2 linked regions of the Homo sapiens genome follow. The protein of the gene in region 1 purifies or fractionates together with the protein of each later gene. This does not show direct contact. Each region holds a gene or a part of one and is shown on either strand. Other genes may lie near its edges. The genes, in order: KCNIP4 and PRR4.

Region 1 (15,802 bases):
CACCTCTCCTGCCACAGAACTTGCTCTCCAGCCCAGGGAACTACTTGCAGCTCTCTGCACCATAAACTTTCTCAATCTCTGTTACTTTGCATATGTGGTCTGTTTTAAGACAATGTTCCTCTTCTTTCTTCCTTCTCAAGTGGTTGATACATGCTTGTCCATTAGGATTTGGAATTGCCATTAGGTTCATCTATGAAAGCTTCCCTAATACCCAAGATTGAATTGAAGGCTTTTCTTATGTGTTCCCACAGCACAGGAATCAGCCCTTTGTGGCATTTGCAATATAGTATAGTGGGTAGCTTCTTGGTGATGAAGCAAGACTGCCTTGTTTGAATCTTGGCTTTGTCACTTTGTAGCTCAATAAGCTTTAACTTAAGCTTTAAGTTCTTTAACCTCTCTGTGCCTCACGGCGATATTAATAGTTCCTGGAGTAGATAGAAAAAATGATCACAAATTCTTCCCTTCTCTGTATCTATCTTGCCTTAGATTTTTCAGGCTGTTATAACAAAATACCACACATTGAGTAGGTCAGAAATAACAGAAATTTAATTCTCACAGTTCTGGAGATTGAAAAGTCCAAGATCAAGGTGCCAGCAGATCCAGTGTCTGGTGAAGATCAGATTTCTAGCTCATAGTTGGTTCCTTCTCGCTGTGTCCTTACATGGTAGAAGGGATGAGCTAGTCCTCTGGTCTTTTTTTATAAGGGCATTAATCCCATTTATGAAGGCAGAGCCCTTATTACCACGTAAACTCACAAAAGACCCCCTTCAAACACCATTACCTTAGGGGTTGGGATTTCAACATATGAATTTGGGGGTATGCAAACACTCAAACTATAGCATATCCCTTTCCAATATGCCATTGTAATTTCCTCCATCAAAGTTAAACTCTTTCTTCCTCCCTTGAATCTGGGCTGGCCTTGTCACTTGCTTTGGCCAATGGGACAGTAACAAATGTGTCCCAGGCAGAGGCTTGCAAAATGCTGTACAATGGCACCTACTCCCTCTTGCTGCTCTTGGGAACTCTGCAGCTACCATCAAATGAAGAAGTACGGGCTAGTCATCTGGATGGTGACAGAGACATGGTCCAGTTGTACCCATTACTCCAACCACTTGCATGACATGTAAGATGACCATATCTCTGCCAGCTGGCCACAGATGCATGAGTGAGCCCAGATGAGCACAGCCTACATTGGCAGACCACAGAATTGTGAGCTAAACCAATAATTATGTTAAGCCATTATGTTTGGGGGAGGTTTCTTATATAGCAAAAACTAACATATGACTCATGGAACATGAATATTGGATAAGTTAACACATACAAAATACATAGAGAGTGCTATATAAGCATTCATTTTTCTTACTAAAGTTGCTTATTTCCCTGTGCAAATCTACCACTAGAATGCTGGCTCCTTGAAGGAAGGGACTCTTTCTTTTCCCCTGTTAACATCTTCCCTACACAGTGCCTGGCTTCTTGACATGTGGTATGAATGATTCAAGATTCTTAGGTTGTTGTCAAAAACCAACAAAGGAAATAAAATATAAATGGCTTCTCATATCAGATGACCTTGTTATCCAGTAGTCTATGATCTTATTTCTTTATATCCACTCCCCTCACCACCACCATCCCTGAGTTCTTATTGACAACTTGAAACCTATGAGACAATAAACAGTTCTATCCATGTGAGTAGAACTGACACAAAAGTGAAACAAGGTTGTCTCACTAGAGTAAAGTGCAGCGAATTGATTGTGATTGTGTCCTTAAAACTGAGTCTGCTTCCATGATTAGGGGTGTATCTTTCATTGCACGTTCCCTAACTCTCCCAAAATCCAAATGTGCTTGTTCTGTAAGCATTCACTCTTCTAACATAGTTGGGTTTTCTCTCTTTGATACCATTTTATCACATCACCTATCTAAAAGACTCTGGACTTTAAAAAATCTAATGGCATTGTGACTTAGAGGGTCTGTCTTTCTTTTCCATTATTTTCTTCATTTGTTGGTGGGCTGTTAACTAACACCTGAATTTGAGTGTCAAGTTCTTCATTTCTTTTGATGTGTATATGTGGCACTTTCACTATTCAAGTCTGACAGACTGTTAGACCGAGTTTTGAATTTTCTAGGCCCAGACTGTGGCATTTTTGTTCGTTTTTTTACCTTACTCTCAAGAAATAGGTTCTCAGTCTTCCCATAATACCGCTAATTTGTATAAAGAATTTTAATTTTACTAATGAATTTTAAAACAAAACAAACATTAATTCCCCAAAGTACCAATATAATGAATAAATCTTAAATATAACAAGATAATTAACTTCCTTATCAACAATATAATATAGTGCTTTGAGCCACACACACATCAGAAATACGTATTTCTCCTATTTCTTTTTTCTTTTCCAAAGACTTAATGTCTTTGAATTTGATATTGGAAGAAAATAGTCATTTAGAATAGTTTTCGGCTATGTCCAACTTTTGGTTAAAAAGAATATTCTAGGCCCGGTGCAGTGGCTCACTCCTATAATCCCAGCACTTTGGAAGGCCGAGGTGGGTGGATCACCTGAGGTCAGGAGTTCAAGACCAGCCTGGCCAAGATGGAGAAACCCTGTCTCTACTAAAAACACAAAAAATTAGCCAGGTGTGGTAGCGGGCACCTGTAATCCCAGCTACTTGGGAGGCTGAGGCAGGAGAATCGCTTGAACCTGGGAGGTGGAGATTGCAGTGAGCAGAGAACGCACCATTGCACTCCAGCCTGGGCAACAAGAGCAAATCTCTGTCTCAAAAAACAACAACAAAAAAGAATATTCTAGAAATTGATTCATTTAGTCATAACAACATCTCTTTTGAACAGTTTTATTCAAACTATTAGCAGACAAACCAGTAAATTCTTACTTTTCAAGGACTGATTTTTAGACTTCATGCAGGAAAATGAGCAATTAAAGAAAATACAGGATTAAAAGGCATAAAGTGATTTGGAATTTAATGAACCTATCTACCAATTATAACATATTCAAGTATAGAACCTAGAGATATGGAATTTAGGTAAAACCTTTTCAGCATTAACCTCATTAATGATATTTAAGTTTTTGCAGAACTATCTGGTTAAACTAAATCTCCATTCTGAAGCGAATCCTCTAATCACCTCTCCTGCTATGTACAGAATGTAGCCAGTGGATTTCCTGAAGTCCACAAGTCAAGGGTCATTGCAATGAAGTGAAATAATAACTTTACATCTGTAATATGGACTTATCCTGCAAGACAAAGTTGCAAGGCAAACCTGACTTTTGATGCTTAGAGACTTACACTTCATTTGGCAGTATTCCAGCTTTTATAAACTTGGCAAACCTTATAGAAGCAAGTGCTGAAAGATGTCAGACGATGAAGGTTTGTGACCTGGGTGCATCCCACGTGCCTTGTGAAAATAAGTCTCTTACTCTCCATGGGCTTCAGTTTCTTCTTCTGCAAAACGGGGGTTATAAAATTTGAGCTGTCAACTTTTCAGAGTTGTAAAGATCAGTTAAGGAACTGAATATAAAAATCCCACAGGAAGGTTGGAATTAACTTGGCAGCTCTAAAATGTTTACCTCATTTTTGTTTCATTATGGCATATTAATATTTCCTTTAATGTTAGGATCTCAAAGAAGATTATTTTACCTGATTATTATAATACAAGAGATTAAGAATCAGAAATAAATTTGCAAGTGTAGTCCGATGATCAAGGTTAGGGATATTTGCTGCTTGAAACCTAATGAGATAATAAGTGATTCTATTCATGTGAGTAGGGCTGACATAAAAATGAAGCTGGATTGTCTCATTAGGGTAAAGTGCAGTGAGCTGATTGTAACACTAGCTTCTTCCTCTGCTCAGTGAGCTCTGCATGGCTCCAAGGGAGCCTAAGGTATATAAGTAAACAAACACAAAGCTGTGCCCAGTGTGCTGTCGAGCAGGACTTCTCATTTTTTTTTTCTTTTTTCTTTTTTTTTTTTTTTAAGGCAGGGTTTTTCACTCTGTTACCCAGGCTGGAGGGCAGTGGTGCCATCGTAGCTCACTGCAGCCTCGACCTCCTGGGCTCAGGCGATCCTCCTCTCTCAGCCTCTTGAGTAGCTGGGTGCCACTACCCACAGGTGTGAGCCACTATGCCTGGCCAATTTTTTTGAATTATTTGTAGAGATGGGGTTTACTATGTTGACCAGACCGGTCTCAAACTCCTGAGCTCAATCAGCCCTCCTGCCTCAGCCTCCCAAAGTGCTGGGATTACAGGCATGAGCTACCACTCCCAGCCTTCTCACATTTTAATGTGCTTACCTGGAACCACCTGAGGATGTTGTTAAAATGATGATAGTGATTAAGGAGGTCTGAGGCAGGGCCCCAGATTCTGAATGCCTGACAAACTCACAGGTGATGTAGATATTGGTGGATTTCAGACCACACTTTCTTGCCTCTAGTGTAGAGTAGTGATATCTCAAAGTATGATCTTAGGGTATGTATTAGTCCGCTCGGGCTACCACAACAAAATACTACAGGCTGTGCGGTTTAAACAACAGAAGTTTACCTTCCCACAGTTCTGCAGGCTGGAAGTCCAAGGTCAAGGTGTCAGTAGAGTTCTATTTACACTGAGGGCTCTCTTCCTGGCTTGCAGACGGCTGCTGTGTCCTCACATGGCCTTTCTTCTGAGTGATTTCTTTTTTTTTCCTCTTCCTCTAAGGCCACCTCTTCCTCTAAGATTAGGCCTTCTATCTAAACTATGGACTTTAGTTAAAAATAATGTATCATTGGCTCAATTGTAAAAATGTACCACACTAATACCAGATGTTAACAACAGGGAAAACTCGAGGAGGGGTTACTGGAGAGAGGGTACATGGGAACTCTGTATGCTCATTTTTTCTTTTGAAAACCAAAAAGTCAAAAGGAAAGGATTACAAAAGGGATCAATGAAATTTCAGTGAGTGGAGGATGTGTTCATTATCTTAACTGTGCTGTAGTTACTTGAATGTATCTGTATGTCAAATCTTATTAAATTGTACACTTTATGTGCGGTTTATTGTATGTCATTTATACTTTAATAAATTTGTTTAAAAAAAACCAAAAAGTGCTCTAAAAGTCTATTAATTACAAAATAAATTACATTCTAAGATCTCCCCACCAAACTCAGTGAATCCATCCACAGGCTGGAGCAGAGGAGTTTTTAATCTGTTTAGATGATTCTTATGCATGTTAAAGTTTAAGAACAATCAAGAAGCAATTGAAAGCTCTAGTGTTTTAATCAGATGAACGTGAGTTCAAATCGCAGCTGCACCTCTTCACAGCTGGCTGTCCTTGGGCTACTTAACCTCTCTGAGTCTCAGTCTCATTTTAAAATCAGGGTAAGAATAAGTATATATGATGATTTTTCTTAGAATTAATTCATACAATGACATAGAGTTTTTAACACAGTGCATAGGTGCATAGTGTAAGTGCTCAGCAATTATGAAATAATAGAAGTTTTACTGTTACTGCCTGAGTTCTGGTGAGCCAGGGAGAATTGTGCCAAAATGTAAGGGGCTTTCAGAGAAGACAAAGCAGTAAAGGTAATAAGCAATAAAAAATCAGGAAATAATAAAAGTAATCCTGGATGCTTCTACAACATTCCATGGTTTATATATAGCTTTCACTTTCATTCCCTGACTTGATCCTGACAATGACCTTGTGAAGCAGAAATTCCCCTTTTTACAGAAGAGGAACTGAAGCTTAGACATGATCAGTGACTTTCCGGAGGACACAGAACTAGGAAATGTCAGAGTCTAGAGCATCGAAATTCTAGTGCAGGGTGACAGTACACTGTAGTAATTAAATATGGGGGCTCTTGAGTCAGACGGTTGGGTTCAAAGCCCAGATATACTGATTACTATTATAAAACTGGCAAACCAGTTCCCTTCTCTGAGGCTTAATTTCTTCACTAGTTAAGTAGAGATAATAACAGTGCTTATCTCCCAGTGCTTTGTAAAGATTAAATGAAATAATGTTCATAAAGTCTGAGATTCATGGCTGGCACATGGTGAGTTTCCTATTTCTGCACTCAATTTTGAATATGGTTCCTTGAGGGAAAAATACACATCCGTGCTATACAGAAAGTAATCTAGGGTTAGTCAGAGAAGGTGGCAATCTTTGTGCATGTGTCTTGAGGTTGGGAAGACGGGCTAGGGTTGCTACAGCCTCGGAGGAGTAATAAGAAGCTGGCACAGCATGCTGTGGCCTATGAAGCTCTTCTCTTTAACTAGTTGAAGTACTTAAAGAGCCAATAAGGAGATGGTACAAGCAAGACAGAGAAATCCTGGACTTTCGGTCCCAAATATCAAAAATGGCGGTAAATGTGGCAGTAAAAAGATAATTATTCTGTGATGTTTGGCAATGACTAAGAATCCGAGTAAAAAGGTCTGGACTTGGGATTTGTAGTAGCTAAACTCCCATACAAATATTTTGGAAATATATTAATATATTAATATTATATATTGATTATATTATATAATACAATATTTATATGTTAATATATTACAAACTTCTTCAGCACAGTGTCTACTTTACACGATTTTGTTGCCTTCTTTATAATTAGTTAAGGGGTAAACGTTTAGTAGGGCCACCATGGGCAGATATTCTTTGGATAAGATTTGAAAGATAGTTTGGTCCAACAAAATGTTCTGCATATTTTGGAGATGAGAAAGGGGTTGTGTATTACTTCCCACACTGTGAGGGAAGGTTGCTTAGACCTGTTGTAGAATATAGTGGTGCCATTTCTTCTTTGAGTTCACCATGACAAAATATGATGATGATAATGGTGATAACTATTACGATGGCAGCTCTTACTGACTCTATGTGCCAGGGGCCATCCTAAACACTTTACATATGCTGCCTCATATAATCTTTCCCAATAGTTAAGTAGACACTATTCTTTTCTTTACTTTTTTTTTTTGAGACAGAGTCTTGCTCTGTTACCCAGGCTGGAGTGCAATGGCATGATCTCGGCTTACTGCAACCTCCGCCTCCCAGGTTCAAGTGATTCTCCTGCCTCAGCCTCTTGAGTAGCTGGGATTACAGGCATGCATCACCACACCTGGCTAATTTTTGTATTATTAGTAGAGTTGGGGTTTCACCATGTTGGCCAGGCTGGTCTCGAACTCCTGACCTCAGGTGATCCGCTCACCTCGGCCTCCCAAAGTGCTGGGATTACAGGCATGAGCCACCTTGCCCGGCTGACACTATTATTTTCTTCATTTTAGAGTGAGAAAACTGAGGGAGGTTATTAGTCCTCAAACATACAGCTTGTTCACAGTTGGAACTGGAATTCCAACCCAGGCTGCAGAATCCAAACCAGCATGCTCAGGTAGCTTTAGAAGTCATCATATAGAAGACAAAATTTGGAGTTGGACAAGTATTAGTGATTCAAAGTTGTGGGTGGTTTCTGGAAAGAGTGTTAGCTACAGAAAAAGAGAAAGAAGTAGTTGGTCAGTAAGTTGGAAGTTTGCTAGGAGAAGTCTGCAGAAGAGGGAGAAGGTGGCACGCGACAGAATCGAATGATTGAATCTGATAGAATGGGCAGCGAGAAGACTTGTTATGAGGAAGCTGGCAAGTGGGAAGAATGCATTGGCTGTAAAAGTATGCAGACAAAATTCAATAAACATTTACACTGCACATGATCCCATCCTCTCTGACTCTCTCTCCTGTTACCCTTTCCTTCTCTCAATGTACTTCAGCCCTGTCAACCTCCTGGCTGCCCTGCAAACATGCTATTCTTATGTTAGCTCTTGCTCTTCTCTCTGCTTGGAAGTTCTTTTTCCCTTGAGATGCCCATGGCTAGCTCCTCGCTTTCATCAGGATTCCAATTAAATGTTGCCTCTTTCATAAAGCCCTTATGGACCCCCTATATAAAAGTGATCTCCCTAGCAGATCACTTCTGATTCCTTGATTTATTGTCAGTCTCTCTGCCTTCTAGATAGTCAGCCAATAACTGAGGGTCTTTGTTGTATTCACTGTGGTATCCCAGTGCCTATAATTGTGTCTTGTACACAGTAGTTACTAGATGTTTGCTGAATAATGAAAAAACAAATGTTTAGTGAAGACCAACTATGTGCAAGGAACTTTTCTAATTGCTTTGTCAATATAACATTGTTCTCAACTTCAAGAATCAGGGTTGCCTGTCTTTATACAGTGATTGCTACATGCCAGTCACGGCTCTAAGCCCTTTGCATCTATTGATTTTCTTAAATCCTCACAACAAAACAATAATGTAGGTACCAGTTATAGCTGATATTTGTACCAGGCCACAGGATTATGAAGTAGTGGAACTAGGATTTGAACCCAGACAATGGGGTGTCAGCATCTGTCTCCTTAACAATGAACTAAAAGAGTAAAAGGCTCTCAAGAAATATACAAATACATGCTACAAGGGCTCAAAGGACTAAGTAAATCGCTCGTGCGTTTGGGGGTGGGGAGAAGGGCAATAAGGTGTCAATTGAGACCTACTTGGAGAAAGGGGGAAGATTTCACTTGGTGACAGTGTGTATAAATAATCCAGCAGCCATAGGGAAGGCAAATAGTTTCACAAACACTTAGAAATGGCTTCCACCCAAGTCATGGCCAACTGACCTTGCAGCTGAGAGTGAGAGGGAATTTTAATTCAGTTTGCCTGGAGAACGGGTCAACTTGACCTTTCTTCTGAAAAGAGAGGCTTCATGCACTTGACTCTTGGGGACACAGAAATCTGCATTTTAATTTTGACTTCTCAAACAGTAACCATGGCCACAAGTGGTCTATTGGTTTCTCTTTACCTTCCCAACTATTCCCGGCCTTACTGTGCTTTAGAAGGGCAAATGACCTTGCGGGTGGTGAGCGATACCTCCTGGTTGACCTGCCTGGGAGATCTCAAATGAAACCCCCCACATGGATGCTTCTCCAAAATGCCACCAGTCTATGCCACCCCCTCTCTCCAAGGTGGTATTCTGCACCTCGGCCCTGCGATGTTCACCTGGAGTCTAGAGCCAGTGTTTCCCCACACTTAGCCGAGTCGCATGACCGGTTCTAGCTTCAATGGGGGAAAGTTTCCCGTCTAGGAGTTCTGGCGCTCTGCCCGGCTCCGGAGAAGGGCATCTCCTTGCGCTTCCTCTCTGGTGTCCTTCGAACTCAGCCTAACTTTGTGCAGCAGTATTTCCAGTCTAGCTGTCCAAGTTGGAGCCCCTGGGGGACGCAGCGGCGCGTTGAGAAGGCGCGGCGCCTTCGAGCCCCTCCCCAGAGCAGGCGCTGCTCGCAGTGACAAGGGGTCCTAGAGGCGCCCGCTGAGAGCCGCTGGCAACTCCCGGGGGTGTCCTGCCCAGCCCGAAGTCACCTCGGGTCTCTTTCGGGTCCATCTACTCTGTCGCCAGAGGCACCGTGCCACCCGCGGCGCTTTCCTCTCCCCGCACCCCGCCCCCCGCATCCCCAGTCCGGTGACTTGGCAGCAGGTGGCAGGGGCGGCGCTCACGAGGGCGAGGGGCTGGGGTCCCCGCACTCGAGCCGCCCGTGCAGCCCGCCCGCTTCCAGCCGCCGGCGCGAAGCTGCCGGCGCCTCGGCCTCCCCCGCCACCCCGCGCGCCCCCGCCGCCAAGGGCCGCGCAGCGCCCCCGGCGCCCCCCGCCGGCCTCCGCCCGCACCTGCAGCCCGCTCCGCGCGCCCTGCCCGCAGCCGCCGCCGAAGCTCTCGCTCCCAGCGCCACGGACGCCCCCGGGCCGAGCGGCGGTGCGCTCCCGTGCAGACCCGTGGACAGACGCCCCTGGCCGGTGGACTCTCGAGTCTCGCTTCTGCACCCTGCGTCCCTAGACATGAATGTGAGGAGGGTGGAAAGCATTTCGGCTCAGCTGGAGGAGGCCAGCTCTACAGGCGGTAGGATGCAATAAGCTTGCGAGCGGGCGCCCGCTTCCGCCCTCCTTCCCTCGCGAGCCAAGACGGCTGCCCCTTCCCTTCCTCGGCTGGGGACGCTTGTTGCCTTCGCTGCATGAGACACAGTCACCTGGCGGGACTGGGAAGGGGAGGTGGGAGCGGCAGGAATGGGGTGCAAAGGAGAGGGGGGTGCATGCAAGATCCAGGTCGGGGAAGAAAAGATGTTTGAAGTGTGTTTGAAACTCGCCGGTGGCAGGGTCCCCTGCGATCCTGTGCGTACTTTTGCCTTCTCTGAAAATTTCCGAGGTTGTTTATGCATCTGCCAGATGACTCCAGACCGCACGCTTCCTTCCCCTAACACCTGGGGATTAATGAGCTGAAATAGTATTGATCCTCGCCTTCCACTTTTCCTTCATGCCCCCACACGTTTCTTCATTACAACTGTATTTTTGTCCCCTGGTAATATACTGGCGGCATCTTGCCCATGTCAGATTCTAAAGCAGGAGCGTATGGCTTGTTTTATGGCTAGCTTCAGTTTAGTGTGTTCAGAGAAAATGGTCCTCAGTGACACTTGCAAATAATTTATATACAGTACAGCCTTGTTAAGGTATCGGGCACTGTGTTAGGAGCTTGGCTTTCAGAGAAACGTGCGTTCTGCGAAAGCAGGGAGAAATGTTTTGCTGTTTGGTGGGATCCATAGAGAAATAGGAGACGATGCCCTTCCACAAAGCGTCTTGGGTTGCATCGATTTGTTATTAGGTGGTTTTGATGTGTACAGAGTATTTTACAGGAGCCGGAAAGAGAATGGAAGTGATTTTGGGGCACATGAGAGTGATAAAGGGCTGGACCTCTCCCTGATTACATAAGCTAAGGGGTCACATATGGCTATAGCATAGTTTGGGTTTAGAGGGTGAAAAACTTGGACTCGAGGGCTGTAAACTTGCAAGCAAAGAGGTGTTTCCACTTGCTGCCTTCTTTAGTACTCAGGGAAATGGAGTCACCTCAACAACTTGAGTCAATCATTCGAATTTATGGCCATGAGAAATGGAAATGGACACCCTCCCTTTCTTTTCCTCACTCCAATAGTTAAGGTCATCGTAACCGGGAGGACACTAGTCTCACTTGAATATGAAATTTTAAAGAGAACAGTCTTAATCCTTTTGGACTGGAAAAAATAATATGAACATCACCTGTAAAGCCCCACATTTGACTTGTAACTGTGTTTAGTTCTGTTTTCACTTATGCCTGGAGATGCCCACTCATTACGAGCCAAGCATAAGTAGATTATCTCTTGTGAGAAATGCTTACAATCTTTAAGAGATCAAATGTTTCCTGAGTGGCGTGTTTAATGTAGAGGGCTGAGTAGTTTTGGGGTGTTGAGTTGAGTTCGTAGGGTCTCTGTCTTTGCAGTTCTTTAGAATAAACAGGGTAGAGGGCTAGCGCTGTCCTATTAGAGACACATTCACACACGGCAGCCCAGGGAACTCAAGGCTGGAGCAGATGGCAGGAATGTCGTCTCAGGATCTGGATGGCTTGCATTGCTTGGCTCCTCAGTGACCACAGCTCTTTGACTGTACCTGTTCTTCCATCAACCGGATGGGGATTGAATCAGCATGTCTAGACTATGCACAGGGTCATGGGTGGCCATAATCACTATAAATGGGAAATGAAGATGAAGTCACACCTGGGGAGTACTATACATTTAAAAAAGCAAACCTTTTACTGCTATCTCCAGAATCAGCATGTGTTCACTGTTTATTTAGAGAACAGAAATATGTTGTTTTATACCTTGGCTAAGGTGAGACCAAAGTGATGAGTTTTCTGGCTGAGAATTGATTTGACACCTGTTTCTTGAATTGTATTCACAAATTTTTAGTTAGTTGTCATATGATGAGAAGAATAAAGAAAAAAATAGTTTGGATTATCTTTTTTATTCTTGTTGATATTGCTTCAAAGCTAATATTAGAGAATGATCCCCAAATATGTAATACTATTTTCACCAAACATATGCATAAGTACTTTGCTTACTTGTGATCAGATATAGGATGGTCTTTACTAATCCTGGGATGAGAAGGGATGATTTTTAAAGGCTTAAACTCTGTCTTCCATTTTTGTTTTAAAATAATAGTCCCGATCTCTTGTTCTCTTTCCAATAAGTAGGCTATTTATATAACTCCCAAACTATCTTGTACTATGATACAGTTTTTCCTTGAATATATATCTCTGGAATGGAGGTTTATAAGATGATTTAGCTGGAATCTAAGCAAAATTTAACTGGAAGATCTAACTGAGAGAAATGTAGGTGGATGATAGAGAAATCAAGAATTAGAGAAGTGTGAGTCTGTGTGCGTACGTGTATGTATTTTATGACCTGACTTAGAGATAGAACACTGTGAAAAATGGTTTGCTGAAAGGCAAAGGATGAAACTACATGAATGGAAAGTAGAGAGGAAATGTTGGAAATGACAGAACAGAGTCGAGTTGCAATTCTGAAACTTTATAATAATTTAGTTTAAAAAGTTCGTTCCGTACTCTCTTCTCAACAAGTAAACGCATCTAGTATGCTAACTGATGAACACCACCTGTAAATCACTGTAATTGACATTGTTAATGCCAGAGAGGACAGAAAATGGGTGAGTTGTGCATAAGTACATACAAGTAGAGAAGGTTTCTTACAAATTAGAGTGCTCACTTTTGCCCTGCCAGCTTCCATGTTAAACCCAAAGCCTGACCAAAATACATTTTTCATTTCATTGTCTAATCCCATATTTTGCACTCCTGCTATAAAATCAGAACGTAATCCTGCTAACAGTGGAGAGACTGAGGGAGATGATAATTCAACTATGTTTGAAAGAGAATCAGAAACAAGGTCAGAGGAAAAAAAAAACTACAAAATTATTCATTGGTGTCCTTAATTTGTGCCATCTAACTTAGAGATGGCAGATGTTATGTGATGTAATCTACAACTAAAAATGAGGAAAATGTATGTTTCAATAGTAGAGTAAAAAAATGTCTTCAATTTTGAATTGCCATTTGATGGATGTATCGTGGCTTTGGCTTAAGTTTCATGTGTTTTAAAAATAAGGCAAACTCAAATTAGTAATTCCACAAGGGTAATATTGAAAAATCCATTTATTCTGAATCCATGAAAAGCTTTTCATCATACAATCATTATTTTATTTTCTTTATGTCATATAAATGTAAGAGGTGTACTAAACAAATGATAGGACAAAGTGTTGAAATTCAGCCACCCTCTCTCCCCAGGCCTGAAGCTTATGCCCTCTCATAAAATAAAGCTGTGGATGGTTTGGAAATTAATGAGCCATGCAATATAAAATCTGTGTGCAAGATTTCTGGAGAATTGTAGGCCAGGTAGTGGTTGATTGTTTTGAAGATATATTTCTGGGCTTAAATTATTAAGCCCTTCTTACTATTTTTTGTCCTTTTATTTATTTTTCGTGTTCTCACTTTTTCCAGAACATGTGAATAATATTGCTTTTCAATAATACATAACAGAATGTGTTTTTTTACTTAATAGCCTCTCTTCTTAGCGACTATTTCAAGTAGATTAACGTGTGAGGCAGGGAGGGGGTTGTGGGGAGATGAGTATTTTGTTTGTTCAAGGATCCTTTGCAAGTCTGAAAAATCTTTCAAAATTATATAACTGCACCCATTATTATAAATTAATTTACCCTTGGGCATTGAAGCACCCATTTCATTCCAAAAGTATTCATTTGGTTAAAGGTCCTGAGGGACTTTTCTCAATTCGTGTCGTCCTGAACTCACTGGGATGTTTCATGCTGTTTACCAACATGTGTTGGAAGACTGTGAGCTCTGTGAGAGCAGAAGTATTCTGTCCTGTCCACCACTTTATCCCCAGTATTGAGCATGAAGTCTGACTTGTAATATTTGCTCAACAACAGATATTGAATGAATGAAGCCTTTCCCACTTGCACTGAATTATTCTCCTTTCTCTGATTTCTCTCAGATCTCTCTTTTTTTTTTTTTTTTTTTTTTGAGACGGAGTCTCATTCTGTTGCCCAGGGTGGAGTGCAGTGGCGTGACCTTGGCTCGCTGCAATCTCTGCCTCTTGGGTTCAAGCATTTCTCCTGCCTCAGCCTCCCGAGTAGCCAGGATCACGGGTGCACCCGCCACCATGCCCGACTAATTTTTTTTTTCTTTTTGTATTTTTAGTAGAGATGGCGTTTCACCACGTTGGTCAGGCTGGTTTTGAACTCCTGACCTCAAGTGATCCTCCTGCCTCGGCCTCCCAAAGTGCTAGGATTACAGGCGTGAGCTACCGCGCCCAGCCAGATCTCCTTTTATGACACTTATTTCCTCTTTTTGCCCATTTTGTGCAGCCTTTCACATGGTTGTCTTTTAATTATCTTCTCCCTCTATACTCTCTTCCTAATCAAAGTGTGGCTTTGATTCTTATTTTGATGGGGAGTTATCTCTTGAGTGTATAGTCTGCTCCATTCCTCTTCTGCTCGTCAGACTCATAAGAAAGTTTTACCAGCACCTTAAAGTCAGTATGTCTAAAAAGACATGCTCTATCTTCTGAAAACAATTATCGTGGCAACATTTTTTGAGGCATGTTGTTAAAAAAAAAAAAAAGCAAGAGTCTCCTTCTCTATGGTATTCTCATCATGATGAATAAGTCACCAAGACTTGTTGGTTCTTTCTGTATTTTATATCTGTCTCTTCCTTCAATTTCCATTTCTACCACCAAGATTATGTTCTCAGCATCCTTTCTAGGCCATGAGGGTTACATCCTATTTGCACTAACTGCTTCTCCCCACTCAAAACCAACTAAATTTACTGAAACCTAACTTGAGTCATAGATTCTCCTGCACAAAATCTTTTAATGCCCCCCTCCATTACTTATAGAATCAAAAATACAAATTCCTTAGCTTGATTTTCAAGGCTCCTACGAAAATCATGACGCAGCTGGGTCTACACCTTGATCTGGCTAAACTGAACTGTTCCCTGGTCTCCAAACATATCTCCTTTTTTCTTTCTTTCTTTTCTTTTGAATCAGAGTCTCACTCTGTTGCCCAGGCTGGAGTGCAGTGGTGCCATTATGGGTCACTGCAGCCTCGAACTCCTGGCCTCAAGCAATCCTCCTGCCTCAGCCTCCTGAGTAGCTGGGACCATAACCAGCTATATCTCCTGTTTTACCCACTGCTTAGAATTAACTTCCTGCCCTCACATTGCCTGGTGAAAATCTGTATATCCATCAAGACACATCTGAAATGTAGTGTCCTTCTCTTGCGGGCTTACTGATTTCTCCCTGACTCCTCCCCAAATAATTATTCTTTGAATTTTCATAAGTTGTTTTTCTTTTATTGTTGATATAGATCTGAATGACAAGGCAGAATTCACTGGACATAATTTGTCTCATTTGCAGATGTTCTGTTGACTTTTTGATGGCAAGTAGTACCATGCAAGAATTACTAATTTTTGTACCTCTAGTAAGCACTTCTACAATGCTTCACAAACTAGTAGACATTTAGACCAGGAATGGTGGCTCACACTTGTAATCTCAGCACTTTGGGAGGCCGAGGCTGGCAGATCGCCTGAGGTCAGGAGTTTGAGACCAGCCTGGCCAACATGATGAAACCCGTTCTCTACTAGAAATACAAAAATTAGCTGGGCGTGGTGGCAGACACCTGTAATCCCAGCTACTTGGGAGGCTGAGGCAGGGAGAATCGCTTGAACCCAGGAGGCAGAGGTTGCAGTGAGCCTAGATCGCACCATTGCACTCCTGCCTGGGCAACAGAGTGAGACTCTGTCTCAAAAACAAAACATAACAAAACAAAACAAAAAACTAGTAGATATTTAAACATATTGATTGAATTAAATCACGTTGTCCCATGGTAGACCCACCAAAGACCAAAGTTACAATTCACATTTGATTGCATGTT
Region 2 (15,962 bases), on another chromosome or scaffold:
ATGTACCCACCGCCCCCACCAGTCTACTTGCCCTGAGCCCAGCTGAGCACTAGGACTCACCTAGGATTTGTAGTCCTTGTGGCCTAGACTGCCTTTCAAATTTATTTAGAGACCCAGACTACTTTAGCCTACAGTGACAAGGCTTGCCAGAACTCAAGTTCTGGCTGCTGGAATGTACAGTTCTCTTCTGGCTAGGGCTGGTCTATATGCTCCCTCTGTGGGTGGACATCAGCTGAGTTCACCCCGGTTTTGCCTTCCATTGTCACAAGGCAGCACTGATTTCAATGCGAAGTTTCAAAATCACCACACTTTCCCTCCCCAAGTCTACAGATTCTCCATTCTATGTAGTTGCTGCTGGGTTAAGACAAGGGTGGCGATGGCAATTCAAGACTGTCTTTCCTACCCTCTTCAGTACCTCTTTCAGTAATATGAAGTTAAAAGCAGGTACTTTGAGTGATCACCTGATTTTTGGTTCTTATGGAAGTGCTTTGATTATGTAGGCAGTTGTTAAATTTGGTGTTCCTGTGGGTGGGATGATTGGTGGAGCCTTCTATTCCACCATATTGCTCTGCCACTTCTATAGTGTTTTTCTCTTTGACTTTTGACAGTTTGAGTATAATGTGACATGAAGAAAATATTTTTGGGTTGTATCTATCTAAGCTTCCTGTATCTAGGTGTTTAACTCTCTTGCTAGACTTGAGAGGTTTTCTTCTATTATTTCATTATATAGGTTTTTTATGTTTTTGCCTTTCATTTTGCCTTTGGGAAAAACCCAAATTCAAAAATTTGGTTGCTTTATGGCATCCCATATGTCATGTAGGATTTGTTCATCTTTTTCACATTTTATCCCTCTTTTTTTGTCTGACTGGGTTATTTAAAATATTTGTTTTCAAGTTCTGATATTCTTTCTTCTCACTGACCTATTCTATTTTTGAAGCTTTCAGATGTATTTTTCTTTCATTTATTGATTTATTTATCTCCAGCGTTTCTGTTTGATTCTTTTTTATGATATCCATTTCATTGTTGAATTTCTCTTTAATATCCTGAAATGGTTTTCTGGTTTCTTTCTATTTTTTACCTGTGTTCTCTTCTATCTCACTGAGCTCCATTAGTATCATTTTTTAAATATTTTCCCCAACATTACATAAATTTCTTTTTCATTGGAATCTACTGCTGGAGGAGTATTGTGTTGATTTGGAGGTGTCATATTTTCTTGCTTTTTCATGTTTCCTGTGTCCTTACATTGATGTCTGCGCATCTGGTGAAATAGTTGCTTCTTCTGTTTTTTAAATTGGCTTTCATAGGGGAAGATTTTTGTATCAGTCCATTCTCACATTGCTATAAAGAAATACCTGAGAGTGAGTAATTTATTTTTCAAAAAAAGGTTTAATTGGCTCATGGTTCCGCAGGCTGTACAGGAAGCATAGAAGCATATGCTTCTGGGGAAACCTTAAGGAGCTTTTACTTGTGGCAAAAGGCAAAGCTGGAGCAGGAGTCTTACATGGCAGGATCAGGACCAAGTGGGGGCGAGATGCAACACACTTTTAAACAACAAGATCTCATGAGAACTTACTCACCATCATGAGAACAGCAGTGAGAGAATAGTACTAAACCAGTTATGAAGAATCTGCCCTCATGATCCAGTCACCTCCCAACATGCCAGTCTTCCCCAACACTGGGGATTACAATTCAACATGAGATTTGGGTGGGGACACAGATCCAAACCATGTCATTCAGCCCATCACTACTCCCAAATCTCATGTCCTTCTCACATTTCAAAATACAATCATGCCTTCCCAAGAGTCCCCCAAAGTCTTAAATCATTTCAGCATTAGCTCAAAAGTCGAAAGTCCAAAGGCTGATCTCAGACAAGGCTAGTCTCTTTCACCTATGAGCCTGTAAATTCAAAAAACAGTTACTTCCAAGATACAAGGGGAGTACAAGCATTGGGTAAACACTCCTGTTCCAAAAAAGAGAAAGCTGTAAAAAGAAAGGGGCTACAGACCCCATGCAAATCTGAAACCAGCAGGGAAGTCATTAAATCTTAAAGCTGCAAAATAACCTCATTTGACTTTCTATGTTTCACAACCAGGCATACTGATGGAAGGGGTGGGTTCCCAAGGCCTTTTCAGTTCCACCCCTGTAGCTTTGCAGGGTTCATTTCCCACAGCTTCTCTCAAGGGCTGACATTGAGTGCCTGCAGCTTTTCCAGGTGCATGGTGCAAGCTGCCAGAGGATCTGTCATTCTGGGGTCTGCATGATGACAGCTCTCTTCTCACAGCTCCACTAGGCAGTGCCCCAGTGGGGACTCTGTGTAGGGGTTCCAACTCCACATTTTCCCTTTGCACTGCCCTAGTAGAGGTTCTCTGTGAGGGCACTGCCTCTGCAGCAGGCTTCTGCCTGGACATTTAGGCTTTTCTGTAGATCCTCTGAAATCAAAAGAGAGGCTCCCAAACCTCAACTCTTGCACTCTGCACACTCACAGACTTAACACCACATGGAAGCTGCCAAAGCTTATGGCTGGCATCCTCTGAAGCAGCAGCCCAAGTTGCAGCTGGACCCCTTTGAGCCACAGCTGGAGCTGGAGCAGCTGGGATGCAGGAAACAGTGTTTGGAGGCTGTGCAGGTCAGTGGGGCCCTGCGCCTGGACCAGGAAACCATTCTGCCCTCCTAGGACTCCAGGCCTGTGATGTGGGTGTGGCTACGAAAGTCTCTGAAATGCCTTCAATGTCTTTCTCCCATTGTCTTGGCTGTTAACATTTGGTTATTCTTTACTCATGCAAATTTCTGCAGCTAGGGTAAATTCTTCTCTAGAAAATGGGAATTTTTTTTCTACCACATGGCCAGGCTGCAAGTTTTCCAAACTTTTACACTCTGCTTCCCTTTTTAATACAAATTTGAGTTTTAGCTCATTTCTTTGCTTAGGCATATGAGCTTAGGTTGTTAGAAGCAGCCAGGTCATATTTTGAACACTTTGCTGCTTAGAAATTTCTTCCACCAGATACCCTAAATCATCACTCACAAGTTCAAAGTTCCACAAGTCCCTAAAGGAGGGGAACAATGCACCCAGGCTCTGTGCTAAAGCATAACAAAAGTGACTGCTCCAGTTGTTCCCAATAAGTTCCTTATTTTTATCTGAGATCTCCTCAGCCCAGACTTCATTTTCCATATCAGTATTAGCATTTTGGTCACAATTTACAAGTTTTTAGGAAGTTCCAAATTTTCCCTTATCTTCCTGTCTTCTGAGTCCTCCAAACTCTTCTAACCTCTGCTCATTACCCATCTCCAAAATCGCTTCCACATTTTTAGTATCTTTATAGCAATGCCCTACTCTTCGGTACCAATTTTCTGTATCAGTTCATTCTCACATTGCTATAAAGAAGTACCTGAGAGTGGGTAATTTATGAAGAAAAGAGGTTTAATTGGCTCACAGTTTCATAGGTTGTACAGGAAGCATAGTGACATCTGCTTCTGGGGAGGCCTCAGGGAGCTTTTGCTCATGGCAAATGGCAAAGCAGGAGCAGGCATCTTACATAGCAGGAGAAGGACTGGGTGGGGGGGAGGTGACACACACTTTTAAACAAGCAAATCTCATGAGAACTCACTCATTGTCATAAGAATAGTACGCAGGGGATGGTGCTAAACCATTCATGAAGGATCCACCCCCATGATCCAATTACCTCCAATGAAGCCCCTCCCCCAACATTGGAGATTATAATTCAACATGAGATTTGGGCAGTGACATAGATCCAAAACATTAACTTTTCTTTCTGAAGATGTATCTGTGGTGTTGATTCAGTAGGACACTTTGGCTTTGATTCTGTGTGTGTACAGTAAGGTGGTCTTATATTATTCCTTCAGCTATTAACAGCATAAGTGGTGTCTGTGACTTCCTCAGTGGCTTAGGCTGTAGTTGTGATTGGAGGCTGTAGTGAGGTTTTCCTGGGGACAGAGATTTTAGGTGGGCCAGTTCTTGGGCCCCAGTAGGGGTAACAGTGGGCTGAGAGTGCCTATATTTGGCACCTAGGCAACATATGTTTGTACCAGTTTTAGCAGCTTTAAGCAGAACAATTCTGGGGGCTTTAAGTAGCTTACCTGGGTACTAGCAGTTGCAATGGTAGGCTGAAAGGGTGGGTGGGCCTTTAGGCCTCTGGGAATGTGCTTGCCATGGGCAATTTCTGTAGCTTGGTTGGACAACCCTCAGATTCTCAAGTTGCAAGCTCTGGTGTTAGAGGTGGTTGTGATGGGCTGGGGGCCAGTCTCCAGACCTTCAGATGTTGCATGCATATTGTTTCTGGCTACAGTGCTACTGTCAGGCTGGTTGGGCCCATTCTCAGTCCTCCTAAAGGAATGTGCAAATGCCAGTGGTGGTGGACAAAGCAGGATGATTGCCACACCCCTGGGTAGTGTGCCTGGGCACTGGGATGATGGAACCAGGCTTGGCAGGCCTGTCCTCAGTCCCCCTAGTTATGTACATGGATGTTGGCTGTGGTAAGTTGGATGGGGTAATCCTTGGATCTCCCAATAGCAGGAGCAATACCTGAAGAAAGCCTGTCCTCGAGGCACATGCAAATTTGCTGCAGCTGTGCTGCTAGGGCAGGGTGTGGTTATTGTCAGTGGCAGCAGCCACTAGCAGGCAGCTCTCTGGCAATGTGGAGCACACTTTGGCTTCTGGCAGCAGCATAAGCCAGTCCTCAGGGTACGTGCAAGTTCACAGTGGCTCTGCTGCTGGTGGAAGTCAGGTCACTGCCAGTGGCACATGCTCTGGCCCCCAGCTGCATCAGCAGACTCAGCAGCAGATGGAGAGGGCCTGTCCCCAGGTTGCATGCAAGTGTGCAGCATCTCTGCTGCTGTGTTGCGGGGGTGACATTGCTGTCTGTGTCAGCAGCCACAGGGAGGCAGCTCTCTGGTTCTGGAAAGCATGTGCTTTGGCTCCCTATGTCTGGTTCACAGCCTTTCCAGTGCCTGAGGTGCAGAACACTGCATATGCTAGAATGCTGAGGATCCTGCCACTTTGCTGGGTCCAACTGGCATTTCACTGCTGCAGCCCCCGGTGGTGACAGCAGCAACTGTGCCACCAGCAGCAGTGGGAAGAGCCTTTTCTCAAGGTGTGTGCACTTACATGCACTGCTGTCTTCCTGCTGGGTGGGCGGGTTGCTGTCAGTGCTCACAGGTGTAGCAGGGCCATCCATCTCTGCAGAGTCCCATCTGAGGAGGCAGGGTCACTGCAGGACCAATTATTAGACCATGCACAAACTCAGAGTTGTTGTGGCCCAAGCAGGCTGTAGTCCTGGGGGTGGGCCCACCACAGGACCAGTTTTCAGGCTGGGCACCAGCATGCACAGGCTCAGCAGACTAGCTGGTTGTGAGGTGTGGGTGCATGTGGGTGTCGTGGCTAGTAGGCAGATGGGTGGCTTCCCTGCTGTTCACTTCTTCCCTGGATTGGTGGTGCACCACATGGGTTCGGATGCCGGGGTCTTGATTAGTTTATCTGGCTAGGCTCTGGGAAGCTAGGGTCATGGTGCTGCAGATACCTGTATGAATGTGTTGGAATGATGGTGGGGCCTCAAGTGATAGAGAGCCAGGTGCTACTGATGCTCAAAGCAAGACACACTCTCTATGTAGGTTCAGTTTGGAGATGGCACTGAGCCATAGCACCTTACATTGCAGGGGCAGAGGGTGCTCAAGGTGGTCTCTTACTATGTAAGGCAATGCAGTTTGGAAATCCCAACTGCTCTCCAGACTGGTTTTTGTGCCAGTGAGAACAGTGGGGCAAAGATTGTTGACATTTTTTATGGCAATGTGGACCACTGGGGAACTACAGCTTACTTTTTCCTGTAGAATGGAGTTACTGATGACCCTGAGCCAACCTTGACTGAAGAGAGAGTATGTCAGAGGCAGGATGCTATATTGAGTTTCTGTACTTCACAGAGGTGTTTCTGTTCCCCTGGTGGTCTCCAGCATACTTTTTAAATCACACTGGCTGACATAAAATTGTTTGTTTTCTTGATTTCTTTTTGTGGGGAAATGAGTGCCAGGGAACTCTAGTCAGCCATCTTGCTGATGTTCTAAATTCTATTTTTAAAAGATCACTCTGGCTGTTGTAAGGAGAACTGCTTGGGATGTGGTGAGGGGCAGGAATGTCACCAAGATCAGCTGGAGACTGTTGAAAGTCCTCCAGGAGGGAGAATCATGGCTTGACTCAGGACCTTCTGATAGAGATTATGAAACTGATCATATATGGGATATCTTTTGAAGGTAGAACCAATTGGATTTGCTAAGGGCAGTACACGGAGGAGACTAAACAATCAAGAGTGACACTTATGTTTTTGAATGGTTGAGTGAAACAAATGTCATGAACTGAGAAAAGATTGTGAGGTGTTATCAGCTAAATTGTGTTCCCTCCAAACTCTCATGTTGAATCCCTTACCCCCGATACCACTGAATGTGACTCTATTTGCAGCATGGCCTTTAAAGAGGTGATTAGGTTAAAATGAAGCTGATAGGGTTGGTGCTAATCCCATCTGACACCTGTCCTCATAAGAAAAGAACATTAGCACAGACCACAGAGGGGTACCAGGGATGCACGTCTACAGATAAAACCCCATGTGAAGATACAGCAAGAACCGGCCATCTAGAAGTGAAGGAGACAGGGCCTCAGAAGACACCAAACCTGTTGACACCTTAATCTTGTACTTCAAGCTCCAGAACTATGAGAAAGTAAATTTCTGTTGTTTAAGCCACTTGTGGGGCATTTTTTTAGGGTAGCCATAACAAATTAGTATGAAGGAGAGCAGGTTTTAGGAAGTAGAAATCAAGAATTATATTAGGGGTATGTTAAGTTTTCATCTGTTGTAAAAGGCAAGTGGATTGCTGAGAGTGTCCACTCACCTACAAGTGCCTAAGCTCCTGCTGCAGTCCTGCTTCTCGATTTGACCCCACCCTCACTCACTGACAGTGTCTGTTTCAGCTCCTCCGTCACCTCTGTTGTGGTTGTGTGTGGTGAGATCATAGCTGATGTTTATTATTTCCTGATACATTAATCTCTTTCTCTCATTGCTTACACTGGAGAATGTCAGGGTAAGGGTCTGAGCTGAGTGATATTTGCAGGCATCACCTGTTGTCTTCCTGCACTCACCAGCCAAGGAGAAGCCTGCCTTCCACCAGGACTGCAGTTTCCTCAGCCACCCACACAGTGAATCATGTCTGCATGGCACGCCCCTCTGCTCCTTCTCGCTGACCTTCCTTTCCTACCTGATGGTCTACCATAAGCCACCTAGGCAGAACTACTTATCTCCACTTCCCATGTTAAACAGTGTCTGGTGAAATCAGAGGCAGCAATCCTAGTAACACAGCTGGGTCTGTAGGCCCAAACAACTACTCTCTCTCACCCATAAAACCCTAAAGCACAGCTAGAACTCTTCTGCTTCCCACATAGAGAAGAATTGCTAACTCATAATATATTTCACCTTCAAAATATGTCCATAATTATGCCAGAGAAAATATTTATTTTTTGGTCACTTTGCCAAAGTAAAGTTATCCATAACAAACACCATTGATTAGAAAATCTTCCTGTAATATTACCTCCAACCCTTCAGAATTGCCAGACCAGACCTTCATCTGCACAGCACAGGATCCACTTATCCACAATGGTCAAGAGGCCTGTCTTTAAGATTTCCAGTCACATTCCCCCGACCCTGTCATACTTCCAACCAAGCTATCCTCAAATTATCACCAGCCCTGTACAAAAATGTAACAATAATACGAGACCTATACAATGCCTGTAATGAAAAGTGGCAGCTGGTGATACTGATTGATCTAGGGGTTCCATGAAAATATAAGCAGAAAACTACTAGATAGGACAGAAAAATCAGCAGGTGAAGATTAAGCTACCAACTCAGGACCCTACCAAACTTTTCAGAAACACAAAACCTTGGTGCCAAATTTTAAAAACAAAAAAGAAGAAAGCAAGCAAAGAGAAGTACAGAACCTTGTTTAGAAAATCAAATAAAGATTTCTCCCAGAACGCATGAAGAAAGCAGTAAGATATAAAACATAGACATAGGGAGGATTGATTCACAATATAACATATCAACAAGTAAGGTTCAGCACAAGAGTGAAGAAGAATGAGTATAAGAATATTGCAGAGAAAATAATCTTTGGTAAAGGCAATCTGAGAAGCAAATAGAATGGAAACTAATTAAAAAATAGAAAATCAATGTAATACTTGAGGCTTTCAACAGGCTATCATACTATCTAATTAGATTGTATTATTGTGTCCACTCAATAACCAGTGTGATTAAAATATTTGGTACAAGAAGTAAGACCTAAACTGAATCATATAGAACATTCTAGAAAAGAGAAAGATCATGGAAGAAGTCTTAGGGACATAAAATAGCATGGCTTGTTCAAGGAACTGTGTATTCACACTGTTCTGATGCAGAAATCTAATGGTGCTTTCTGTGGCCAATTTTGCCTTACTAACCTCCAGGGTATTAATAAAGATAGAATGTTTTAATACCTGTGTTCTACAACAATAAAGTATCTCTGGTTAATGCTAGATTAGGAGAATCTTAATCTCTTTGGGCCAGAGTAGCCTGAGGGTAAAACTTCTGTCATCCACGTGTGCCCAAGTGTGTGTTGTCCTCACACAACTCAACATTAAACAGAAATGATCTCTATATTATTATGAAATTAAGCTACATATCATCCATATAGGTATATATGCTATAAAAATGGAATTTATGCTACACTAATAGCTAGAGATATTAATCATTTTCACTTCTGGCTATAAGATCACTGCTGACAAACATATACAAACGTAAGCACGTGTGCACACAGACAACCAATGAAGGGGAAAGACTAACTGTCTAACCCAATTGAAAATCAAATGATGACCAAACTTCAATTGTAGTATTTGTGCTGATTGCTTGGATACTGTTTCTTCAGAAACTATGCTCAAGTCACAGTTTGTACCTAACCACATCCTACCACCACATCCTGCTGGGCTAAAATCCCAAAAAGTAATAAGAGACGCATTCAACTTTATGAGAGGAAAGCAAAACCTAATCTTTCAGGTGGTGAGGTCCACCCAGTATGGAGCTCAAAGGTGCCATTGTTCTGCTCATGTTTATAAAGGGAGCTGCCATGTTTCTCTCAACGCAGAGTTGGGAGCAACTCCAGAGCCTCCTTCAAGATGCTGCTGGTCCTGCTCTCAGTGGTCCTTCTGGCTCTGAGCTCAGCTCAGAGCACAGATAATGGTAAAAAAATTATTTTTTTAAAAAAGGAGATGGGGAGTGGGATGAGGGGCCATGACTCTTCTAGGGCCTCAGGGGTTCACCCTACACCACTGCAGCGGAAGAGCAGGAGGGGAGGAAGGAGGTTGAGAAGAAGGGTAGGGCTTTGGAGCTCTCATTCCAAGGATGACATCTGTTGTGCCCTCATTCCATGCCAAGGCCTTATACTTTATTTGATATACACTTGGAACCCAATAGAGAATTTCAATTAGAGGAATGACAAAGTAAGATTTGTATTTTTAGAAAGACCTGGCTGTGCTGTGAAGGATGCAGTGGAGAATGCAAGACTGATCCAGGGAAGTCCAGCTATGAAGATGCTACAGTAATCTCAGTGGACAGCGATGATGGTGTCCTTGCTGTACAGGGGATGCAGAATCAATGAAAGAGATAAACAAACATCAGAGTACTGTCAGACATAGAGGACTGGATAATACATTTGTGTCTTTCTACATAGTGGTATAGAAATATCAGGTCCCCAAATTCCCATTTTTCTTCCAATCACATTTAAAATTTCAATATGTTGCAGGCAGCATGTGTAAGATTATATCCAAATATTTACTCCTGGTTGCTCCTCTTGGGCAAGCTTGTGAATATGATCAAAATATTTAAAGAAGGAAGAAGGTAAAGATCTAAAATATGACATGAAAATACCCAGAGAAGTGTGCCTAAATTAGCATTAGGGTTTGAGGGATCCTAAGGATGACAAAAAGGGACTCTTCTATTGAATTCGTGGTTGATGCTCAGCGATAGTAACAATCCTGCCTCCCCTAACATCTTCCTCCCCTTCCAGCAGCTTCACAGAACATGGTTGATGAGGTAACTTAGGGGATGCACAGGGTGTGGCCAGAAGACCCCTTTCCCTATAGACCACTATGAGCCCTGAAAGATTTATGAGGTAATGTTCACTTCATCCTGTGCTTCTTTTCCTAGATGTGAACTATGAAGACTTTACTTTCACCATACCAGGTAAATCCCAATGATCCTCAATCCAATTCTTTTCTTTCTTTTTCCACTAGAATTTCTTTTTAGTTTCCTTCAGTGTCTTCTTCTCATCATTTTTTTGGGAGGAGGTGGTAAGAGGGGTCAGGCATTGATTAATATTAGTGCCCCTAAATATATAGGCAATTCTTACCCATCTTTGATTCTGGGGACCATGAGCCAGGCCACCAACTTGAATACAGAGATGCCTGGCTTTGAGGACAATAGGAGTGGGCAGGCTTTTTTCCCAGGCTGGAATGACTGCTGAGAGATGATGAACAAATGAGAAGTGTTCTCATTCTGACTCCTCCATCCTTAACTGCTTCTTTCTTCCCCCAGTGTTCCCCCGCACGGTTATGTGGCTTCAGGGAGTAACACAAAACAAAACAAAAAAATCACTGCATGAATGTCTTTTCTCTGTGTTGACCCACTCAGCTGTGTCACTACAGATGATAAATAGTTGCCACAGCTGTTTAGTGATCATGTGCAGGCTTTCACATTGTCTTTCTCTTCTGTCTCTTAGTATTTCTCTACTTGGTTCCAGGAGCCTGGGAAATCAGCTCTAGTTTCCACATAGGGCTTAGGTGCCCAGAGATGGAGTCACAGTTTGTAAGTCATTACAGCAACCAAAAAATAAAAATAAAAAATAACCAGTAACATAACTGAAAGCTATAATGCTTTTGCTTTTTTTTTTTTTTCTGTCCTTGGAGACATCCTCTGGCAACTCTAAGATATGCAAGAACCCCTCTTTTCATTTAAGGAAACATACTTGTCACAGGAGCAAATAAATGAGACTTTCCATATCACTCTTACATGGATTAAGTTGAGAGCTGCATAAAAAGAAAAAAAAAACAGTGGGCACAAAAGAAGTTGACAGTCAAGCAGCAGGTTTGGGGAGAACAGGGCTGTGTGGTAAGGTGAGAGAAGTATAAAGAGAGGAGAGTTTTTCTTCACTGAGCTCATGCATTCTTGTCCATTAATTACTCACACAGATGTAGAGGACTCAAGTCAGAGACCAGATCAGGGACCCCAGAGACCTCCTCCTGAAGGACTCCTACCTAGACCCCCTGGTGATAGTGGTAACCAAGATGATGGTCCTCAGCAGAGACCACCAAAACCAGGAGGCCATCACCGCCATCCTCCCCCACCTCCTTTTCAAAATCAGCAACGACCACCCCGACGAGGACACCGTCAACTCTCTCTACCCCGATTTCCTTCTGTCAGCCTGCAGGAAGCATCATCATTCTTCCAGAGGGACAGACCAGCAAGACATCCCCAGGAGCAACCACTCTGGTAATCTAGAATTCAGTGGCAGGTATGATTCCAGTTCATTCTCCATTAAATGCCCAAACTGCTACCATTCCCAAACTTTATCGTGTTCACAAATCAATTGGAAATATGTTGAAATTACATAATCCTGGACCCCATTTCTAAAGATTTGTATTCAGATATTCTTGGATAAGGTTGCAAGTCCTTGTATTTTTAACAAGTGGTTCAAAGAATTCTTATCTTTTGAAATACTGACCTCCCCAACTTTTTTCTTAAGATGACTTGTCTCATTAAAATGAGTTGGTAATGAGGAAGTGGGGTGTGCTCTCCCTTTGGTGCTCTGCCTCCTGTCTTTGAGTCTGCCTTCTCAAACCCAAGGACTCTCCATCTCAGGTTTCTCTCAGGTTTCCGCCAGAGGACTCTTTGCTCAGTCCTGCCTCACACTAGCCTCTCAGGTCCAGTGTCCCTGCTAAATGATACTTGAACTTGATGCTCTTATATCTTATTTAATTTTTAAAATACTTATTTTGAAATTAGTACATGCTCAAGGAAAAAAAAATCTAACTGAACAGAATGGTATGAAGCTAAATCTTAAAGTGACGCCTTATCCTACTTACCCACACCCTTCACCAAAAGTCACCACCCTTAATTTTTTGAACATCCTCCTGGAAATATTTATATGTATATAAGCATACGTCATTATTTTTCCCACAAATGACATATTATTTTATATGCAGATCTGTATTTGCTTATTTCAAATAATACATGTCTTAGACAACTTTATCATTTCACGGAGACCTATAGATCTTCTTGGTGATTTATTTGTACATTTTTCTTTTGTTGTTACAATTGTATACTATTCTCTTGTGTGACTGTACCATGATTTCCTCAGTCAACCACTGTTAATTGATATGTAGGCTTGTATTAGTTTTTCACTACTACAGGTTCAAGTTGCAGTCATTTTCATAAATATAACCTTGAATGTTTTGAACAGTAACCAAAACATAAACACCATAAAAAAATCTGTTTTCTTAATCTTGAAAGCAATAATTTACTTCAGTAATATCATCAAGGAATTAGATAAGTTTTGCCATGTTGTATGTTGTGTATAAATTTCCTTGGTTTTTTTTTTTGTTTCAGAAAATAAATAAGAAGATAACTTCCTTCAGAAAGCCATGACATTGAAATAATGTGGTCATAACTCTTTCTTCAGTATACCAATAAAATATTAATAGCATGCAATTTCTGATTGTTGCTTCTCTTTGTGGGTGTTTCTGAGTCTAGAATTTGAGGGCCATTAATACAATCTAAGAATATCTGGGACTCTTGCTCATTGATGCTTCCAGCAGGCTTCCCTCCTCCTTTATCTTAATAAAGCCAGCTGCCAAGGAGAAAGAGTTCCATTGTTCCCCTTCTGTCCTAGATTGCATAGCACAAATGCAAATTCTTAAAATTATTTTTACATCTTTCATTGATATTCTTGTAACTCTAGGAAAACAAGGAATATATAACAAATGAGAGGGAGTTGCAAGTGCTGGGGAATTCTTAAAATTTCCAAAACTATTAATCCTGGTTTCTAGGGGCATAAATGTAGTTCTAGATCTCTTCTCTATAAAACTCACTATGCTCTTTTCTCCTCTTTTTTCATTGCTCAGCTCTCTTCCTCCCTAAGTCGTTCACCATTCTTTTTAAAAACTTGAGTGGATTTCATAAAGGGTGCAGCATAATGTACTTTAAAGGGCAAGAAATTTGAGTAAAACTCTGTTCTGATTGTAAAAATTCCAGCAATATCAGTATTATTGTCAGATAATATAGACTACCAAATTTAACTCAAGTTGCTGAGGCAAAGTTGAATAGAAAATAACCCTAAGAAGCAAAAGAATTTGATATGTAACTGTCTCCAGCTACCTCTCATTATCACCTCCAATGTCGCTGAATACAGAAAATTTTAATATCTAATCTTTATCATTAAAAAGCACATAATTCTTTTTTAGATTTTTTAAGTACAGGAAACAACAAGTTTCTGAATTCATTCTGAGTTTCATTAAACAAAATATATAGGACAGCAAGGATACTCTGTTAGGGAAACTATTCAATAGTACATAAACAAACGAACAGTATGCTAAAAGAATAATAAACCACGTTGAAAGAGGATGAGGATGTTAAAGATGGTTCAATATTAGAAAATTGGCCACACCATATCTGATTTTGATGATATTTAGATAAGACTTTGGATTTAGATTTTAAAGTGGATGCTGGAATGAGTTAAGACTTTGGGATTTGGGAGATGAAATAAATGTACTTAGTATGTGAGAAGACCATATATTTCGGGGGATGACCAGGGACAGAATGCTATAGTTTGAATGTTTATGTCTCTACAAAATAAATTTATGTTGAAACTTAATTCCCTATGCAATAGTATTAAGAGATGGAGTCTTTGGGGGAAGTGACTAAGTCGTGTGGACTCTGCTTTCATGAATGGGATCAATTTCCCTACAAAAAGAAGCTCCCAAAGGCTGCTGAGCTGTTCCATCTCTTTTGACATGTAGGGACTCAATGTTCATGTTTCTTTCATACTTCTGCCTCATGAGAGAGAAGCCAGGAGAAATTGTCTGTTTGGAATGGGCTCTCACTCAACCCCAAATCTGGTACCATCTCAATCTTCAACTTTCCAGCCTCCAGAGCTATGACAAATCCATTTATATTATTTATAAATTACCCAAGATAAGATATTTTGTTAATAGCAGCTCGAACTGGCTAAGGCAGAGGGCTACTTACAAGAATTAAATGCATAATATATATAAAATTACCTTATAAAATGTATATAAAATTACCCTACAAGATGTATATAAAATTACACGATTTAAGTCTTGTAAAATGCAACATGTATACAAAATTACCCTACATGACATACAACAATAAAAGTTCAATACATTTAAATTTATTTATTCTTTTATTAAAAAAGACTCGTTTTGTTCTTTCTAATAATGAATTACCTTCTAATAATAAATTATCTTTCTAATAATGAATTAACTTCTAATAATGAATTATCTAAAAAATAGATTATTTGATAAACACTTGCTTTCTTTAGCATTAAAGCCATTCAAAAAAGAAGCAGAAAGGCCATCTAAAAGGTATGTTGATGAACAAACGCACTGTTGCATGTCATCAGGTGGCTGGTTAACGTGAATAAAAACTAAGTCTCCTTCCTCATTTAAATTCCAATGATTCTGCTCCTTAACATTTAATATTCAGCCTATTCTCTACCTATACAGAGAGTAATGCCACCTGTAGGTCTATCGTTGCTCAGTTGTTATCTGAGAAGTAAAGCCCAGTTCCTCTTGAAAAGGCAGAGAATTTAGACAGAAATTCACCAACTGCTTTCTTACAGAAAGTAAACCAATTTCTGCTTCCAGAAAAATGGAGTAAATGTATTTTGCCCTATTCCTTCTACTAAGAAAAACTATAAACCCTGAACATTATATATAAAATATATGAAAACTCAGACCTGGAGAGACCAAGGCAGATGTGGTAGGGACTTAATAAATTGTATAGTGATGAATCCTCTAAGTTTTCTTTTCTGCTTTATAATTTGCAGACTTTTAGCTGAAAATGCCATCAACATAGAAATACTAACAGGCACATATGAGAATTTCCCAACAAAAGCCTATTATTTTAGGCAAAGGTCAAGGAAATAGTCTACCAAGGCAGAAAACATTTCGACAATAACCACTCTACTGTAGTCAAGTACCACAGAAAACACTATTACCTCAAGTGAAGAGCTTAGATCTTTAGATCTTCATACCAGCCAGGCTGTGACAAGGTGTCCCAACCCTCCTCCAGAATAGTATCTCAGAATAGCAGAAGTTGGAACTTTCATCCCCAACTTGTGGTAATAAGCCCCTCACTCTCCTTCCACACCTTGATATGACTGGAGAGCAAATGGGGAGCTGGATCTACTCTAAAAGCAGCAATGAAGAAGCACCCTCCTTTCCATACCAGGTGGTGCTTGTGGAGGCCATGTGGGAAACAGTAACAAGTCACTTCTTCCTCCGAGACAGGCTATCAGTGGAGGCCCAGTGGTGACCCAGAATCCACCCTCCAGCCAGCAGTAATGAGGAACCTCCGCCTGCCTAGGTGTCAACAGAGATTGAGAGGAAACCTTTATTTCTATCATCACCTGGCAGTAATGCAGTGTCCCTCCCTCACTCCCTTGCCTTGCTGGAGTAGTGTCTGAGGAAGCTAGCTAAGACAGAAAAGGTAAATAAGTTCTAGAGTCTCATAATGCCTAAAATGTCCTGGTTCATTTAGAAATCATTTGGTATACAAAGAACCAGGAAAAATCTCAACTTGAATGTAAAAGGTAATTAGAAGATTCCAGAACAAAAATGACAAAGATGTTGGAATTATTCAGAAAAT

Evidence for each region.
Region 2: the proteins of KCNIP4 (region 1) and PRR4 purify together in Homo sapiens (affinity purification with mass spectrometry; 2 studies listed by BioGRID and IntAct, with this or other methods). This does not show direct contact.

What each region holds. Positions count from the first base shown.
Region 1 is NC_000004.12:21,942,647-21,958,448, reverse strand, and holds the start of KCNIP4 (Kv channel-interacting protein 4), read left to right. Parts: upstream 1-9,676; 5' UTR 9,677-9,817; coding exon 9,818-9,878; intron 9,879-15,802.
Region 2 is NC_000012.12:10,842,672-10,858,633, reverse strand, and holds PRR4 (proline-rich protein 4 isoform 2 precursor), read left to right. Parts: upstream 1-9,158; 5' UTR 9,159-9,196; coding exon 9,197-9,260; intron 9,261-10,226; coding exon 10,227-10,262; intron 10,263-11,266; coding exon 11,267-11,571; coding exon of another isoform or gene 11,572-11,589; intron 11,590-12,683; coding exon of another isoform or gene 12,684-12,690; 3' UTR 12,691-12,785; downstream 12,786-15,962.